Regions from separate parts of the Homo sapiens genome. Here region 1 is reported to be linked to region 2. The links are microRNA targets in miRTarBase. Many come from high-throughput screens and were not tested one by one. Region 2 holds a microRNA gene; the other region holds the end of a gene's coding sequence.

Evidence for each region. The annotated mature microRNA hsa-miR-548at-3p reads CAAAACCGCAGUAACUUUUGU and lies in region 2 at 1,263-1,283, opposite strand. An mRNA with a match to its seed (bases 2 to 7 or 8) in the 3' UTR can be bound and repressed. Matches are read on the target gene's strand: a 7mer-m8 pairs with bases 2 to 8, a 7mer-A1 pairs with bases 2 to 7 and ends in A, and an 8mer does both.
Region 1: miRTarBase lists NCKAP1 as a target of hsa-miR-548at-3p. Seed matches in the 3' UTR shown: 7mer-A1 at 4,315-4,321 and 7mer-A1 at 1,496-1,502.

What each region holds. Positions count from the first base shown.
Region 1 is chr2:182,921,338-182,926,428 of GRCh38, forward strand. NCKAP1 (NCK associated protein 1) reads right to left here. Exons shown (of 31, transcript NM_013436.5): 31 at 1-4,481. The coding sequence ends at 4,365. Among named protein-coding and RNA genes, the nearest start is that of FRZB, 57 kb to the left of the region's middle.
Region 2 is chr17:42,491,093-42,496,092 of GRCh38, reverse strand. MIR548AT (microRNA 548at) reads right to left here and starts at 1,320; the gene lies at 1,263-1,320. ATP6V0A1 (ATPase H+ transporting V0 subunit a1) reads right to left here. Exons shown (of 22, transcript NM_001130021.3): 12 at 1,620-1,759; 13 at 905-1,059; 14 at 377-467.

The DNA.
Region 1 (5,091 bases), not on the chromosome of region 2:
GTCTTGGTGAAATAATTTCAAGCCTTAGCCATTGGCATTTGGTCAGTATGTGTATGTAGTGTACTATGAATGTGACTCAGCCATATACTACAACTGAGACAAGGCAATCACCAAGGTCACATACCTAGTACAACCCCATCTCCAGGCCACCCATTTACCAAGTTTGTGGCCCTCATGTAAGAGGTGACCAAGATGCACCTGCACCAAGAGCACCAAGAGGATTGTCTCAATCCTTAAGAGAAAGAAGAAGGTAAGGGCTGGGGATGAGGGGTGCACTTAAACCAGAAATGAGACATGGCCCTCTGTGGCTAGGATCCTAACTTCAGATTGCTAATTTATCCCATTTTACTTAGGCCCAAAATGACAGGCTGAATACTTTTATTGGAAATGAAACATTCCAGAGTTAGACATGTTTACTCTGGACAGTCAAGGACAGCGATGTGTAGGGAAAGTTTGGTTCATGCAAAAATGAATGAAATTTTAATACACTTAAAGTTACTTCTCACTCTGAAAATAATACCAAAGTAGAGTCAATAAATATTAAATTTCCTTCCAATTCCACAGGACCAATTAACGAAAAACATAATTTTTGTACTACAGAATAAAAATTTTAAAATCTCAAATATTTTTTCCCAAAGGCAGAGGTCATGGCAAATCTTCGGAGAAAGAGAGCATTTTGTCTATTTGAAAATTCAGGCTCAGGCCTTCAAATGAAATGATGGTTCATGCTGTCATTTCAAGTGACTACAAAGAAGAAATGAAAGAAAGATGTAAGGAGTCACTACTTTAAGGATTATTCACAAAAGTCTTAGGAATAATACAGGTGAAGTCTCAGAAAGGCAAGTCCTTATAACAGAATGGGCATGGATCATGTACTAATCAGTAGGTTACAATTCACTACCTTACAGAATTTGGGCTTCATTTAGAAGGCCTGATGGTGTACAACAGACTTTACATTTTCACATTAATGCAAGAGCCTATCAGTGAATTCATGTTCATTTCCTTTATTAACCAGCCTACATTAGATTTAATTTGTGAACTCTGCTATATAAGCAAAGAAGAAAGCAAGCAAGCACATGATCAGAAGAGAAAAAGAGCTAGATAGCCCATAAGGCTCCTAGAGGGAACTTGAGCACTCCTCATGACAGAGACACAGATGACACACTTCTAACTTCTCAAACATGCCAAGTTTGTGCTTGCCTTCTGGGTCTTTGCCTTTATTATTCCTCCCCTCAGCCCACTTGTGGTTCCTTCTAATCCTTCACGTACCAGCTCAAATGTTTTCTCTTACACAGATGACACTTTCTTCTAACACTTTCTTCTAAAGTAGTTTCACCACTGCCTCCCCACATTATCCTGTATACTTTCCAGTCACCATCAGAAGTTTGCTCATGGCTGGGCGTGGTGGCTCATGCCTGTAATCCCAGCACTTTGGGAGGCTGAGGTGGGTGGATCACCTGAGGTCAGGAGTTCGAGACCAGCCTGGCCAACATGGTAAAACCCCATCTCTACTAAAAATACCAAAAATTAACTGGGCGTAGTGGCGGGCGCCTGTAATCTCAGCTACTCAGGAGGCTGAGATGGGAGAATTGCTTGAACCCGGGAGGCGGAGGTTACAGTGAGCCGAGATCAGGCCATTGCCCATTTCCTGGGCAACAAGAGTGAAACTCCGTCTCAAGAAGCTGGTTTGTTTATTGTATACCATCACTAAAATCCAAGCTCAACTATAAAAGGGTCACCTTTTTGCTCACCATTACATGCAGGCATCTAAAAATACTTGCTTAAATAAGTGAATGAAAAAGCAGCAGAAAGGAAGCAATTTTACTTCTGAAAAATTATTCTAAAAAAATAACAGGTCAACTTTACCAAGATATAGATATACATTTATAATAATGAAAAGAAATTGTCTAAAAATCTATCCAATCTATCCAAATGAGTATTTTCTTTTTTTTTTTGAGACAGTCTCATTCTGTCATCCAGGCTGGAGTGCAGTGGTGTGATCTCAGCTCACAGCAACCTCCTCCTTCCGGGTTCAAACAATTCTTCCACCTCAGCCTCCCATGTAGCCAGGATGATAGGTGTGCACCATCATACCTGGGTAATTTTTGTATTTTTAGTAGTGTCAGGGTTTTGCCATGTTGGCCAGGCTGGTGTTGAACTCCTGACCTCAAGTGATCCATCCGCCTTGGCCTCCCAAAGTGCTGAAATAGGCGTGTGCCACTACGCCTGGCCATGAAATTGTTAAATTAGTTATGGTATCTATAAAGGTATTAAAAAGAATATTAAAGACATTTTTTCTACTACTGAGTGAAATAAGCAGATTACAGGCCAGTATGTATGGTATGATCACATTAATGTAGAGAAAACAACAAAAATAGTATGTTGTTGTGTAAGTTTAGAAGAAAATAAAACAAACAAGATATTAAAAATAGTAGTTGTCAATTTACTTTTAACTTTTTCCTCCAAGTTACCTTTGCCACGCCTCCTCCCCCGCCTTTGCTGTATGAGAAAAAATTTGGACAAAAACTTCAGGTGACTATGAGGAGCGATTTTTTTCTCAGCCTAGCAGTGGTAGAGAATGCCTTATTTTCATCCTTATGCCCTTTCACATATGATTCCAAAGTGTACATATCCAAATTCCTACTTTACCTCTCCAGAGATCACTGCCAACAAAGTTATTACCTCTCTAAGATCCTAATATTTCAAAACAAACGGCATTAAATCTTAGTTTTGACTGCTCACTGTGTAAATCAGACTATTTCAGGTCTGAACTATGCCATTTTAAAATTTCCCTTTTTAAAAAATCTTTATGGAACAAGTACAATTTTTCGACAGATAGTGACAACTACTCCCTACTTTAAATATAGGCTGGACAAATCATACACAAAATAATAGCATAATCTCATAGTACTTCAATTTCATTCTACTCTCTATGTTTGAAGAAAGAAAAACATTATAACTGAGTTCACAGCAGCCTTCTTTTATCTTAACACAAGTTACCAGTGTATACATAAGAAGCTGTGAACAGAAGCTCTTTATGATATTCATATACAAAGCTGCTGAGAAACAGCCTCAACAATGCCAATCAAAGAGCAAAACATTGGGTTAGTTTTCAAACTAAATGAGCTGCTTTGCCCTCCATGCCAACTATTAAGCAATAGGCCCTTTTATGTCTTTCCCATTCATTACTGACTAATGCAGCAGTTCTCAACATTCTCACTAGTCCCATGATCACTCAATTTTTTTTCCCTATTCTTTTAAATAACTCTATTTGGTTACAGATAAAATGAGCAAGTTGACAGCATACAAGTTTTCTTTAAGTTCTTAATTTTTAAGAAGTATTGTGTAATTTTATTTTCTAATTTTGGTATTTTTTTCAATAAAATGTTTTTTAAAACATTTAAACAAATCATATAATAGCTGACCTGGTATCGAATGCTGTACTTAGACATTCCTAAACCATTATTTTTTATATTTCAAACTAAGTTTAAACAAAAACTTTATTATTATTGAACGAATATCCAAGGATCTTAAAGAAATCAATCGAAGTGTGATACAGTCTAGTGTTTATTTTATGTTATGGCAGGTACACTTGAATTTCAAAAATTTAAAACATATATAAAAAGTGGTTAGGGACTAACATTTGTATCAACAGTTGATAAATGTCTAAGATTGTTTATTATACAGCAGGGTACAATGGTAGTGCTAATGCCAACAGGGCACCATGGAAGTTAGTCTAAAAATTATCGCTAGGCTTTATACAAGCAACAACATATGCTGCTGCTCTTAGAATTTTGGGAAATGATCTGCTTCTAATACTAAGCAGTTCTTTAACATTTTTAAATGTTATACAGTGTTACAGTATTTAGTTTGGCAAATGTTTCAAAATAAAGTAGAAATGTATTCATAACATCACAGAAATGCACATCCAATGTTGTTTTCAATAAGAACCATAGGTACAGATCAGAACTCTTCCCTATATGAAATAATTTACACACAGATGAATACTATAATATCACTATCTAAAATAATCACTAAATACAGTTCTTTTTCAGAAATAAACAAGCAAAGATTTTTTTCATTATCAAATATCAAAAACATGTTGATAATGTATGTTTTTCAAATAAATGATACTTTAAAATTATAGGAATAATCTCAGTGAATTCAGTGAATGTGCAACCTAAATCAACCAAGTATACTGTAGTACAACCATATTAAGAAACCAATGATCAGAAAATACAACCGTATGAAAGAAATTTATAATCCACAAAACTTTTTCAGGTCTTAAGGTAAAATAGTTCCACAGTCTACAGGTAAAACCAAGGCAACAAAAATGCGTGCTTATCTTGATTAAGTAGGTAATTTTATGCAGAAGATGTAACACTTTGTTTGTAGACAGCATGGTATGCATTTCTCAGCAAGACATAAGGAAAACAAGATTCCAAAAGATCCATTGTAAGGAATGGAGATTCTTGTACAATCTGTAAAATTCAAAAAATCCATCAAAACAAGTTATTTATAACTTGTTTATAAACAAAAATCATAAGTTATTTATAATGGGAACATTTATTGACAACCAGTAAGGCATAACTTCTATATTGTTCTTATTAGCAATAGACACATATTATTTTCCTTTTACTTAATCTAAAATGTAAATGTGCCACAGTGAATGTATATCAAACTGTTTAAAAAGAGCTACTTTTCAATTAAATTTATTTAATCAACAGGAATATATTGAGCACTTTCATTTTCCTCACTGATATACTAGAAATAAAAGACAATACAAAAATATTTTTTTTTTGTACTATCAACTCTACCTGGCAATCAAAGACTAAGCTAGGAAGCAAAACCAAACATAAGACCGACTATAATGAAATGGAAAGCTGTAAATTCTGTAAGAATTCAAAACAGAAGAAAGATTAATGTAGGCCAAAGTAATCAAGAAAGACTATCTGGAAAAAGATTTGAGCTGTGGGATGTGCTAAGTCATTAGGATAAATCCAATTTCTGCAGGTAAGGAAAATAACTCTAAGTGGGGAAAGAGCCACGTGGTAGAAACAAGCAAGAGCTGGTTCACAGATACTGCAGAGA
Region 2 (5,000 bases):
TTCTTTCTTTCTTTTTTTTTTTTTTTTTTTTGAGACGGAGTCTTGCTCTGTCACACAGGCTGGAGTGCAGCTTGCTCACTGCAACCTCTGCCTCCCAGGTTCAAGCGATTCTCCTGCCTCAGTCTCCCGGGTAGCTGGGACTACAGGCATGCGCCACCACGCCCGGCTAATATTTTATTTTTAGTAGAGATAGGGTTTCACCATGCTGACCTCAGGTGATCCCACCTCCTCGGCCTCCCAAAGTGCTGGGATTACAGGCATGAGCGACCATGCCCAGTGAAAGCCCACATAACTATTTATCTTCATTTTAATTCTCTTGCTTCAGGGTTAGTGTTAAAAAATTTGAGGTTAGCATATAGGAAGGAAGTCCTCTTACTGGATCAATGCCAAAAGGGTATGGTCCACCAAACACTCCAGGGAGGGCTGGGTTCAGCTGTAGAACAGGGTTCCCCCGAAGCGTCTCTTCACTACCATGACAGGGAAAAAGTCACATTATTTTTGAACAAGAGAGGGAAACAACAAGGGTCCAGAAACTGACCCCAAAATAAATTACTGTAGCTATCTTGTCTCTTCAATAAAATGGGAGGGGAAAAATAAAGAGGAGAGACTAGCAGCTGAGACTGAGGGATCCAAAATGACAAAAAGAAAAATTAAACACACAAACACACAATCAAGTAGGGAACTGGGGAATCTGGTTTTAGTTTCCAAAAAAAAAAAAAATCATTTCTAATCTTAGTTCCTGGATACTTGCTGAACAAATCACAAAGCAACTCACAGTGTGGAGCATGAATGAGGAGACACTGTCACCACTTCCTAAAGAAGTGTCAGTTTACCACTTGTCTTAAAAATCAGGGCTGCACATGAAAGGAATAAGCTTTGAATTTTAGCTTCTTCTGCAACTTACGTCCAATTATAAGTAAACATCGGCCGTACACTCCAGGATGACCCAAAGATATTAAGAGACTTGGAAAAGCAATCATTGTAGATGAGGCCAGTGTACATGGAGAACACACCCATCAATAAAATAATGTATCGACCACTGAACACAGTGCTAAACATCTGGGAACCAGAAGAAAGAAGTAATGAGAATGTACTCACTGCAGCTCACATTGTGACAATGTTATTCAGAATATACCTGCCCCTTTCTCCAGCACTACTTTACCCCATCCTGATTCAGAGAGCTTGAAGTAAAAACCAAAATACAATGCTAATGAGACAGTCACTTTCACAGGATGTGGCCTCTATTTTTTTATTAGGTTGGCACAAAAGTTACTGCGGTTTTGGCCATTTCTTTTGGCAGCCAAAACCGCAATAACTTTTGCACCAAACCTAAATAATTTTTATTTTTTTAGAGATGGGGTCTCACTATGTTGCCTATGCTGGTCTCGAATTCCTGGGCTCAAGTGATTCTCCTGCCTCAGCCTCCAAGTAGCTGGGACTACAGGCACACACTACCACTTCCAGCTTGCACATGTCGTCTTTGGTGTTAAAATGAACATAACTTCTCTACTTCCTTTTGATAAATTCATGGATAAAAGACTTCCAGATCATAATTTTCATAATGAATGCTTGGGAAATTATAAAATTTCAGTTCAATGCAGATGTAACTTAAACATTACCTCATTCTCATTCTTCTGGGAAAGGATCCGGCTCTCCCTCAGTACCATCCACACAGCAAAAAGGGTCATTAAAATGCCATGACCGAAGTCTCCAAACATCACAGCAAATAGAAAAGGGAACGTGATAATAGTATACGGAGCTATGAAGAAACCAAAAAAAGAAAAATACAAAGTACATTAAACCATAGCAATTCCACAAATATTACATTCTTTTCCATACCCACCCCCCTTTTTTTTTTTGAGATGGAGTCTTGCTCTGTCAGCCAGCAATGTCTCAATCTTGGCTCACTGCAACCTCCATCTCCCAGGTTCAAGTGATTCTCCTGCCTCAGCCTCTTGAGTAGCTGGGATTACAGGTGCCCACCACCATGCCTAGCTAAGTTTTGTATTTTTAGTAGAGACAGGGTTTCACCATGTTGCCCAGGCTGGTCTCCGACTCTGACCTCAAGTGATCCACCTGCCTCGGCCTCCCAAAGTGCTGGCATTACAGGCGTGAGCCACCGTGCCCAGGCTTCCATAATCTTAAGATCAATATAAGGTGACTTACTCCCCAGCTGCCAGACAGATAGGACTCTCAGAGAAAATCTTTCATGGCAGAATCAACACATCTTCACAAAGTAGCTAATGAAATTTGAGCTACTGATAACTTTTTTTAAAAGAGAGATGGGGTCTTTCTCTGCCACCCAGGCTGGAGTGCAGTGGTTTCATCACAGCTCACTGCAGCCTGCAACCCCTGGACTCAAGTTATCCTCCCACCTCAGCCTCCCAAACAGTTGGAACTACAAGTATGTGCCACCATGCCCAGTTAATTTTGTTTTAAAATTACTGATAAATAATATTTTTTTAGATGGAATCTCACTATTTTGCCCAAGCTAGTCCTGAACTTGTGGCCTTGAGCAATCCTCCCACCTCAGCCTCCTGAATATCCGAGATTACAGGCATGAGGCACTGTGCCTGGCAGCTCTGATAACATTTCAAACAAAGAACAGTGGAAATGAAGGTGTAACCTTGACAACATTGGTTTGTTCTCTGACTCTCTTGTAACTCGTGGGACCCTGCTCCCAGGGCAGGCCAGCTGTCTTCTCTTTGTGCAGCAACCATGTCCCAGTGATATAAAGCTAAATATCAGATAACGTACAGATGGAGAGAGCCCAGAGCAAAGCAGTTCTTCCATAGGGCTCCAACTGAAAATGAATACTCACACTCTTGATTTAATAATTAACTCTCCAAATATAGGAGAAATCTGTGTTGTACCTAAAGTGGCCAATACTTGCTACATTTTTTCTGTCTAACCTTGGAACAGGGAAGCCAAAAAAAAAGCCATTTAAAAATATCAGACATCTTAGAAGAAACATTTTGCTTAAAACAGTTCCTGCAAATGATTTGCTAGAGAAGTCCAGGTGTTTTAGGGCTGTGAGGGCACATGAAAGAATCCAGTCTCATGAACTTTTTTTTTGAGACAGAGTCTTGCTCTGTCACTCAGGCTGGAGTGCAGTGGCACAATTTAGGCTCACTATAACTTCTGTCTCTTGGGTTCAAGCAATTCTCCTGTCTAGGCCTCCTGAGTAGCTGGGATTACAGGCATGCACCACCAGGCCTGGCTAATTTTCTTGTATTTTTAGTAGAGATAGGGTTTCACCATGTTGGCCAGGCTGGTCTCGAACTCCTGACCTTAAGTGATCCTTCCACCTTGTCCCCACAAAGTGCTGGGATTACAGGCATGAACCACCACGCCCAGCCGATGAACTTTTTTTTTTTTTTTTTTTTGAGACAGAGTTTCACTCTTTTTGCCCAGGCTGGAGTGCAATAATGCAATATCGGCTCACGGCAACCTCCGTCTCCCCGGTTCAAGTGATTCTCCTGCCTCAGCCTCCCGAGTCGCTGAGATTACAGGCAAGAGCCACCATGCCTGGCTGATTTTGTATTTTTAGTAGAGACGGGGTTTCTCCATGTTGGTCAGGCTGGTCTCGAACTCCTGACCTCAGGTGATCCACCTGCCTCGGCCTCCCAAAGTGCTGGGATTACAGGCGTGAGCCACCACACCTGGCCCAGCCGATGAACTCTTAAAGGAACGCTACCTGACAGTAAACCTGCCCCTTACATTAAATGGGCATCTTTTTGTTGTTGCCCAAGCTGGAGTGCAGTGGCATGATGTCGGTTCACTGCAACCTTTGCCTCCTGGGTTCAAGTGATTCTCAGGCCTCAGCCTCCCGAGTAGCTGGGACTACAGGTGCATGCCACCAAATCCGGCTAATTTTTGTATTTTTAGTAGAGGCAGGGTTTCACCATGTTGGCCAGGCTGGTCTCAAACTCCTGACCTCATGTGATCCACATGCCTCAGCCTCCCAAAGTGCTGGGATTACAGGCGTGAGCCACCATGCCCTGCCAGAATGAGCACCTCTTCACAGGGAGTACACAAGATCTGAGGTGTCAACATGTTTATTTATTTTTTAATAGAGATGGGGTCTCACTATGTTGCCCAGGCTGATCTTGAAATCCTGGGCTTAAGCAATCCTCCTACCTCGGCCTCTAAAAGTGCTAGGATTGGCTGGGCGCAGTGGCTCACGCCACCCAGCACTTTGTAATCCCAGCACTTTGGGAGGCCAAGGCGGGTGGATCATGAGGTCAGGAGATCGAGACCATCCTGGCTAACACAGTGAAACCCTGTCTCTACTAAAAATACAAAAAAATGGCCGGGCGCAGTGGCTCACGTCTGTAATCCCAGCACTTGGGGAGGCAGAGGCAGGCAGATCACCTGAAGTCAGGAGTTAGAGATCAGCCTGGGCAACATGGTGAAACCCCGTCTCGACTAAAAATACAAAATTAGCCGGGCGTGATGGCACATGCCTATAATCCCAGCTACTCGGGAGGCTGAGGCAGGAGAATCGCTTGAACCTGGGAGGCAGAGGATGTGGTGAGCTGAGATCGTGCCATTGCACTCCAGCCTGGGCAACGAGAGTAAATCTCTGTCTCACCTAAAAAAAATAAAAAAAAAATTAGCCGGGCATGGTGGCGGGTGCCTGTAGTCCCAGCTATTCGGGAGGCTGAGGCAGAAGAATGGCGTGAACCTGGGAGGCAGAGCTTGCGGTGAGCCAAGATCACGCCACTGCACTCCAGCATGGGTGACACAGCGAGACTCCGTCTCAAAAAAAATTAAAAATAAAATTAAATTAAAAAAACAGTGCTAGGATTAACATCTTTAATTTTAATTCAGTTATTCAACAGCATTTAAAGTGAGGCATTAGAAGAAACAATGAACAAAAAGGCCAGGCATAGTGGGTCACACCTGTAATCCCAGCACTTTGGGAGGCTGAAGCAGGAGGCTTCCTTGAGCCCAGGAGTCCAAGACTAGCTTGGGCAACATAACAAGACCCCGTCTCT